Regions from separate parts of the Homo sapiens genome. Here all the other regions are linked to region 2. Evidence: fine-mapped expression QTL. A gene starts in region 2. Each other region holds a variant in brackets. All regions are shown on one strand. Distances are between the middles of the regions.

Region 1 (2,760 bases), 22 kb after region 2:
TGTCTGGATTATACGTCTGTCTGGTCTGGTCTATACGTCTCTTACTGTGGGAAAGAAGTAGAGGTAAGAGAGGTGGGAGACCTGAGCTTGAATCCTGGCTTATTAGCTGAATGACCTTGGACAAGGTTTTCCAATCTCTGAGAGAGACTTTCCATCTGGAAAATGGAGATTAAAACTATACCTACTTTATGGGGTCTTATGCTATTATTATTCAAATTGATATCGCCTTTGTATTAAAGGCTGTAATTTTTTCCTTCATCTTCATGTAGCCTATTTGATTGAAGTTCCCAAAGTGCTTTCTTGGTGTCCCTGAGAGACATGCTTATAGTGGTGGTCAGTCATTGATGGGGGATGCAAATCTGGATCACTTGCTCACTTTCCCAACCCTGGGCTAAAAGGATTCATTGGGATCTTGCATTTCAAGAAGTTATTTTGGGCTTAAAGGGGTTTCTTAGCACATTTGTTCCCTATTTGATGTCTATATTCAAGAAGAATATGGTAACTCTACATTTATTTCCATGGGGCTTTCAAAAATGTTTCTCAAGAGTCTATGCTTTATTCTCTTTTGCACTAATACTTTGAAGCATGTGTTTTTATTTTATCAAACACATGAGAGAAAAGGGCCCAAGAAGAAAGGAGTGATTCACCCTAGGTCATGAAGCAAGTCAAGGCCAAAGCAGAAAGTGGGAACCTGGTTTCAGAGAATAGTCACCCTGAATACGAGCTATTGCTTTAAGCGAGTAGACTGGAGAAGTCCCTAAATAGCTCAGCAGAGGATCCCTGTCTTCCCGAGGAGTTGGGGATGTCCTGGCAAGCTTTCATCCCAGCTGCGCAGCAGCACATTTTACACACGTTGCTCCCAGCCCATGCGCCTTCCTTCTCTTTGCCCCTCCTTTTTGCGAGCCTGGGAATAGGATTCGGTGTCCAGGCCCTCCTCCAGGCAGCACCTCACCAGGTCCTGCAGTGAAACCGTCACCCTGTACACCCCTGCATCCAGAACTGCCTCTTCCCACTAATGGAGCCACCGAGTTGCAATGCAAAGCTGGGGGTTTAAACAGACCCCACACCCTGACAAGCAGGAAGTCCTTTAATCTTGCTGTGCCTCGATTTTCCTCTCTACAAAAAGGGGCTAATAATTTCTTCCAGGCCATTGTCAGAAGCTAAAGCCTAAATGAAACAAGAAATATTAAACTCTTTATAGTATGATTTAAAGCACTATAATTACTGGCATCATTCTCTCTTCTAGGTATTTGTGCAGACCTTACACTCTATCCTTCTAAGCAAATTCATAGCTATTCTTCAAGGACCATTTTCTTAAAGTTATCCTCATTTACTCCAGCTCTTAGTGGCCAATTTCTCTTTTCATAGCAGTAGTTTCCAAACCTGTATGAGCATCAGTCTTTCCATGGAAATTATAAAAATGCTAATAACATTTAGATACACCACATGCTAAGATCTTCCTATAGATTATCTCATTTAATTCTCCCAACAACCCGATGAGACAGATATTTTTTATCCTTCTCCTATAAGGGAAACTGAGACTCAGAGAAGTTAATTAATTTGTCCAAGGTCACACAGCAGTCAGATGGCAGAGCTAAGAATTACGTCTAGGCAGTCTGATTTTC[A/G]CATTCACAGCCTGAAACATTATGCTTTGCAGCTTCCCAGTTCTTACTCAGTGGACCCGATGTGGTGCCCAGGCATCTGTGTGATTAACAAGCTCTGTGGGTGATTCTGATGCTCAGGAACTGGGCAGTTGCTGCTCTCCAGGTCTTTCTGTCTGTTCCACCCATTTGGTACTGAGTGGCTGAATAATGACTCCCTGTGTAGGCTCCTGCCCTAGAGAGCTGGTCCCCTCCTCAGGGACAGGGGCTTCTCTTACATATCCCTCAGCATGGAGCATGGGACCAGTTGTGGAATTTACCTCCTATTACTTTGGAGAAAGCAGAAATAGCCTAGGTGACTGGGCTGGGAGGGAAAAACTAAGATCTATCACTCACCAGGGTGCATTTTGTTCCCCTGGCCCTTCATCTCTGGTACCTTTTGGGACTGGGTGGGAAAGTTATTACCAAAACTGTTTCCCAATCTGGCTCTTCTGGCCTTGGCCCCTCAGGATGGAAGTTTGCAGTGTCCAACCTGCAAGACCATTTATGGGGTGAAGACAGGCACCCAACCTCCAGGGAAGATGGAGTACCACCTCATCCCCCACTCCTTGCCTGGCCACCCAGACTGCAAAACCATCCGGATCATCTACAGCATCCCCCCCGGCATTCAGGTGAGCCTTTCTCTCAGGTGAGCCTTTCTGTCACCCCTTGGTTTTTATTGTTCTATGTGTTTGTAGGTAAAAAGTTACATATGAAGAGTCTCCTTCCCACACTTTTCCGCCATCTACCCAGCCTTGCCCGCTGACACTACATCCCCCGACTCAACACTATTGTTCTGACTTTCCTATGTATCCTTCCAGGATTCTTTGTGCACACACAACAGAAAATCGCATCCACCCTTCCCTTTTTTTTTTCACAAACAGTGACATTTAGGCACATTGTTTGGCACCCTGCGCTTTTCAGTTAACAATGTAGTCTGTAGATCTTTCCACATCAGTATAGAGAGAGCTTCCTCGTTCTTGTGTCTGTGTAATCATCCATTGTATAAATGTACCACTATTTGCATTCAGCAGTCTCCATTTGATGGGCATATGGATTGTTGCCAATCTTTGGCTACAACAAATAATGCTGGAATGAATAACCTTGTACACATGTGAAT
Region 2 (2,760 bases):
TGTCATTTGTAAAATGGTAATAATAATGGCCTATGATATAATTAGTCGAGGTATCCTTGTTTTCTTTTTGTTCTTCTAATTCTGAAACTCGACATTTTAATGAGTGGTATTGTTTAGGTTGGATTAGGAACAGTCCCCAAATAAGGGAGAGGCCGACTAGGCATTTTGGAGGCCAAGCTGTGCAAGAAGACCAGAAAGAACAAAGCTCAGAGGTTCCTTGAGCCTGGTGCCTTTAGGGGCCTGAAGAAGAACAGATCTCACACTTTTTCTTTTGCTTTGTATTTAGAACTCTGTTGGGAGAAAGATAAAGGTAGAAGGATGCAAAATTCTAACAATGGGAGAAATGACAGCTGCAAGGAGAGGGAGGGGGAAGCAACTCTTCTAAAACATAAAAGGGTCATATGATATTTATGAAAAAATTGATTATTTCAAAAAGATTCACAATCCCATTCTCTAACACATAATCTATTTTTACTTTCCCGCATCCTATAACTTGGATCTTGATAAGACTCGATTCGTTGTTTTATGTGGTTTGCAATCTCAACAAAACAAAATTTGTGTTCTTTGACAAGGATAATGCATAATCCTGACTTCAGTCTTCCCTTTTAGTCAGAACCTACCTATTTAAGGTTATTTTCCATATTAACTATTGATGATCAAAATAAGTCTAACTCGTGTTTTTCCTAGTGTTTCATAATTTTAGTTACAGAAACGATGCAGATAAAATTAATCTAACATGCGTCTTCCTGACTCTAGTACGTTGAATCTGGCCAGAAAAACCACATTTGCTCTCTACGTAGGTAATATAAATCCATCATTAGCGAAATTGCTGCATCCCTTTGGACTGGGTCTCATTAGCAGAGGTTGGAGTGGCCACTGGCCGGCACACGACACTTTAGGCCAGCAGGGGGCGGGTAAGCTCCAGGGCACTCGCCCGAGCAGCAGGGGGCGTGTCTTCTGCTTCCTTGACGGACAGCTAAGGATGCGGGAGAGGATGAGGTAATAGGAGCCGGGGCAAGGAAGGAGTTGGGGTGCGCGCGCGTGTGTGTGCGACTGTGAGTGTGCCAGTGCGTGCGCAAGCCCCGAGACAATGCGTGTCTCCAGTTCGCGCTGCGGACACTGATCATGCTGCATTAAGGAAAAAAAAAGAGAGAGAGAGAGAAAATTACATTTGGGGGAAGGAGGCTGCAAAGTTGCGGCTGGGCGACAGTGGTGGTCCCGGGGCCGTGTCATGGCGGGTCGCTTCTCTGCATCAAGGAACCAGGGAAACACACGCGGGCGCGGGTTTGCCTTAGCGCCCTGCTTGGGAGGGGTGGTTCATTCTGGAAGGAACTGAGCAGAGCCACAGGCAGGGGGAGCTCTCCCAGCGGCGGGGACTGCAATTCGTGCGGCGAAGGGGTGGGGAGGGAGGGAGAGAGGGGAGGGGACCAGAGCGTGCCATTCCGAGCGCGGCCGTGCGGCGAGATCCCACCCCGGCGTCTGCAGAGGCCGAGGCGCAACTGGTGCGAGGGCTGGGTCCTTGCCTCGCCGTCAGCCCCAGCTCGCGGCCGCCGGGGCTCGGGCCGCGCGCCCGCCGAGTGGCTTTTGCAAGGCGGGGGCCTGTTTGCAGAGAGCCGGGCATTTGCATGAAGCGACTCGACCCCACAGAGCAGCGGCAGCAGCAGCGGACCCCGGCGGCGGCGGCGGCGCGCGGTCCCAGCCAGGCGGCCCCGGTGTCCCGGCCCCGGTGGATGCACGGCTGGGGAGGAGCCCATGGGCCGGAGCTGAGGCTGCCCGGGGCGGCGGGGCGCGGGGCAGGGGGCGCGGTCGAGGCCCGGAGGCGGCGGCGCAGGAGGAAGCGGAGGAGGTCGGGCGCTCGGGGCCCGGGAGGCGGGCCGCGCAGCGCCGCAGCCCCGGGCTCGCCATGCTCCTGGCCTCGGCCGTGGTGGTCTGGGAATGGCTGAACGAGCACGGCCGCTGGCGTCCCTACAGCCCAGCGGTGAGCCACCACATCGAGGCGGTGGTCCGCGCCGGCCCCCGCGCGGGGGGCAGCGTGGTGCTGGGCCAGGTGGACAGCCGTCTCGCGCCCTACATCATCGACCTGCAGTCCATGAACCAGTTCCGCCAAGACACGGGTGAGCCAGCCGCCCCTGACCCCGCCCCGCCTGCTCCCACCTTCCCAACCTGCCAAGGTACCTCCCTCCCTGTGAACCCACCTTGGCCACCTAGTCGGCACTTCTGTGCAGCAGTGTCACCAAGAGGTGGTGGTGGGAGGCGATTCACTCCGCTGAATCCTCGCAGGATCCTCCCTCCCCCTTAAACATCCATGCAAATAGTATCAGTGTTGTGGTTTTGCAAACCCAGCTTCAACCTAGTCGGTAACAATCCACTCCCCACCCCTTTCATGCCCCCGCTTTTCAGCAGTTGGTGGCCCTAAGTCTTTCTATGTAGAAATTCTAGGGCCGCCCCAGACTACAGGCAATCCCAGCCCTTCGCAAAGGCTTCCTGCCCTCATCCCGTGGCGGCCGGCACCTTGGCTGACCTGACCCTGTTTTGCTTCAGGCACGCTGGGGCTTGCCACACGTCCCCTCACCCCCGATCTCACTGCCTCTGCGTCTCCTGTGTGGGATGCCTCCCCGCAGCTGGGTCCTGGGTGTGGGAACTGGGGGAGGAAGAAGGGATTCCCCGGAGGTTCTCGCTACAGTCGGGTAAGGGAAGCGCCGGGCTCCCTGGGAGGAGAGACTAGGGCTGGGGTACCCTGGACGCCGCGGCATTGGCGAA
Region 3 (2,760 bases), 76 kb after region 2:
GACGCCAGTTCTCTCCCAGTTACCACTGGTTCTGTTTAGGTTGTGGGGTACAGCATGTCCCAGAGAGCACCTCTGGGCATCTTGGGTAGCTACCTGTGCTCAGGGATAAAGAAAATGCCAGCTTTGTTTGGGTACAGTTGATTTCCATTGGCTCAGCTTCCATGTTATTCCTAGTTCCTGGTGTGGTTCCAATAATATATCCCTGGAGTCAATGCAATCTGAGACTGGTTTTTGGCTCCAAAATATGTGACAATTTCAGACAATAGCAGTTACCTTTGTAAAGCACTAGATATTTTACAGAACCCTTCTGACAAAGATAGACAGAGAGAGAGAGAGAGAGAATTTTAGGAAAACAATAGTATAGTTCAAAAGTAGAATGGATAGCCCAGAAAGCTTTAAATTTCTCATCACTGGACGTGTGTAAGCAGAAGATGGTACACTTGACAGTGACAGGATTTAAGATTTAAAAGACAATCTGAATTAGTTAACCTTATGGGTTCCTTAAAATCCTGAGATTCTGATTCTGTGAAACAAAAAGAAAGAAGAAAGGAGATTGACATGTACTAACATTTTTTATTGTGTGCATAGGGCCTCTTGTAACACTTTATTTCATAATATCCTCATTCCTCCATACACCACTGCCCCTATAAGGACCTGAGAAATGGATGGCAATTTTTTTAAAAAATCACCTGATAACACTTATCTTTCAAAAGATCAGTGGGCAGGGAGTTTAAAAGAAAAATAACCTCTTGCTGTTTGACTAAGGCCAGATTTCCCTCATGTACGTGTTTTGTTTTTGATTTATCAAATATCCATCTTGAAAATACTTGAAGTCTATTTGTGTGTCTTGGGGAGGACATACAAGAAACAGAAGGAAGTGGGCATTGTGTAAACCCACAGCACACCACAGCTTCTTTCAAGGATTTGTGAAAGATGGTGGCCACACCCTGTTGATGTTGGCAGCTCTTCAACTTGCATCCAGATGAGAAAAATGTTACAATTTCCCTTCTCCACCCAAAACCCCATCAGCTTCTCCTCTGCCAGGGCCAGAGTCTCCTACTGTGAAGCTAAACAAATTATACTCCCTCCTCGAGTTCCCAGCTCTGGGCATCATGCCTACATTCTTGGGGTCTCTCTCTGAGGCTAGATATTGGAGAAATGATTACTATGGCCAATTCAGTAGTTTGTAATTAAATCTTTTTTTAGG[GA/G]AAAAAAAACCCTAAACCTAAAGAATCCTCTTTTTTTTTTTTATATATCTTATTGCATACTGAAGGGTGTGAGGATAGTAAACTAGAAGACTATGGTGCTTTACAATTCCTGCCTCCCTTGCTCCCACCTTCAGAATGGATTGTTCTTTAATACTACTTGAAACATTATCGGTAGAATCAATAGAACCCTCTTTTCATGTCATCTCCAACTCCAAGAATTTTTTTGTGGGGGGACTCAGGCAATTTTAAACTGATTGTTCATAATTCGCCTTCAGACTCTCTCAAATTCAATTCTTCCTCCTTAACCTGCAAATGGACCTCCTTAAAGCACAGATCCAATCATGTCATTTTTTGCTCAAGAGCGTTCATTAGTTTTTTTGTTCACTGATGGCCTGATGACATCCAAATTCCTTATCCTGATCCTCAAATCTGTCACTGCTCAGTGATGCTTAATGAACATGGCATGGAACTCAAAGAGAGAAAATATAAACAGAAGGCCATTGATTTGGCAAGAAGGAAGGGAGGTGTGGTCTTCCCAGAGCAATTTCAACAGAATGGTAGGGGTGGAACTCATTGGTCTCAGATAGGGATATCCGGAATGGAGCTCAGAGGGGATTTGAACAAGGCCAGGTACTGACGGAAGTTATGCCAGTTTAGCAGTGGAAGGAGAGAAGAAAATGGAAGAGTAGGTACAACAGCTGGCAATGTCAAACGAAGGAATCCTCAAGATTGAGGAAACTCGAACAGGTTTCAAGACTGCTGCAAAGGCTTCAGTGCTTTTCAGAGAGGGATACTCTGAGGCAGTGGTTTTCTGCCTTGGCTGCTCACTGGATCACAGCCAGTCATTGGTAGGGCCAGAATTTAACTAGTGCCTACAGTCACAGGAAAAGATAGCTGCATGAGAATGCAGGCAAGTGGTAATGGAAAGAACAAAGAACCCAGAATCAGGATGAGAGAGGCTTAAAGAGGGAGGTGGTGGCACAGAGGACAAAGTTGTAGAATTTTATACTTTTGCTTAAAGCAGGTCTTGTCTGTCTTTGTAAATAACTATTTTAGCTCATTGAAAGTAACATAAACATTCATTTATTTATTTTGCTGTAACCAGAATAAATAGGAGAAGATGTTCTCCGAAATCTGTTCTCAGTCTTCAGATAGACTTATAAACCAACCTGGTAAAACCTAGAAAATAGTTGCCCAACCACATCTGTAGGGCATCTGTGGCCTTCCACCCATAGTGCTTGCTGTCTGTTCTTTGAAGAGACTCTGATTCTTTGATCCTGCTTGGAGTGATGGCGGGGGTAGGCCCTCTTCTGGGAAGCCATAATAATATGGTATCCCCTGCTGAGAGAGCCCACCCTGAGCTTTTCTTTGAAAAGCTTTCTGAGACCAGGAACACGGCAAGCATGGAGTCATTGGGAATCATGTATCCAATTGACTCTCACGCATTGCGACATCGAGTTATCCCTTAAAATAGACCTGGAAATAGCTCTGAAAATTATCCAGAGCTGATGTGACTTGGGAAAAGTATAATTACCCTGAACTTGCTTGATCT

Direction of the effects. Positions count from the first base shown, and alleles are read on the strand shown. Sizes are in standard deviations (SD) of each study's normalised expression. Not every link is listed here.
For the expression in prefrontal cortex of the gene that starts at base 1,440 in region 2, allele G in region 3 goes with a higher level than allele GA (large effect, 1.0 SD a copy in ROSMAP).

The links. PIP is the estimated chance that this variant, and not a neighbour inherited with it, causes the effect.
Region 1: its variant is fine-mapped to the expression of DTX4 in whole blood (TOPMed, PIP above 0.99).
Region 3: its variant is fine-mapped to the expression of DTX4 in prefrontal cortex (ROSMAP, PIP 0.95).

The regions. Positions count from the first base shown.
Region 1 is chr11:59,193,098-59,195,857 of GRCh38, forward strand. DTX4 (deltex E3 ubiquitin ligase 4) reads left to right here. Exons shown (of 9, transcript NM_015177.2): 7 at 2,111-2,272. Among named protein-coding and RNA genes, the nearest start is that of MPEG1, 18 kb to the right of the region's middle. The variant A/G (reference allele first, on the strand shown) is at 1,626.
Region 2 is chr11:59,170,693-59,173,452 of GRCh38, forward strand. DTX4 (deltex E3 ubiquitin ligase 4) reads left to right here and starts at 1,440. Exons shown (of 9, transcript NM_015177.2): 1 at 1,440-2,114. The coding sequence starts at 1,904. It overlaps LOC124902601 (basic proline-rich protein-like), which reads right to left and starts at 2,753. Exons shown (of 2, transcript XM_047427951.1): 1 at 2,573-2,753; 2 at 1-2,038. The coding sequence starts at 2,753. The coding sequence ends at 1,230. RefSeq lists enhancers at 577-1,117, 1,204-1,498, 2,126-2,760, 2,397-2,506 and silencers at 1,377-1,946, 2,007-2,056.
Region 3 is chr11:59,247,081-59,249,840 of GRCh38, forward strand. No RefSeq gene overlaps it. Among named protein-coding and RNA genes, the nearest start is that of MPEG1, 36 kb to the left of the region's middle. The variant GA/G (reference allele first, on the strand shown) is at 1,208.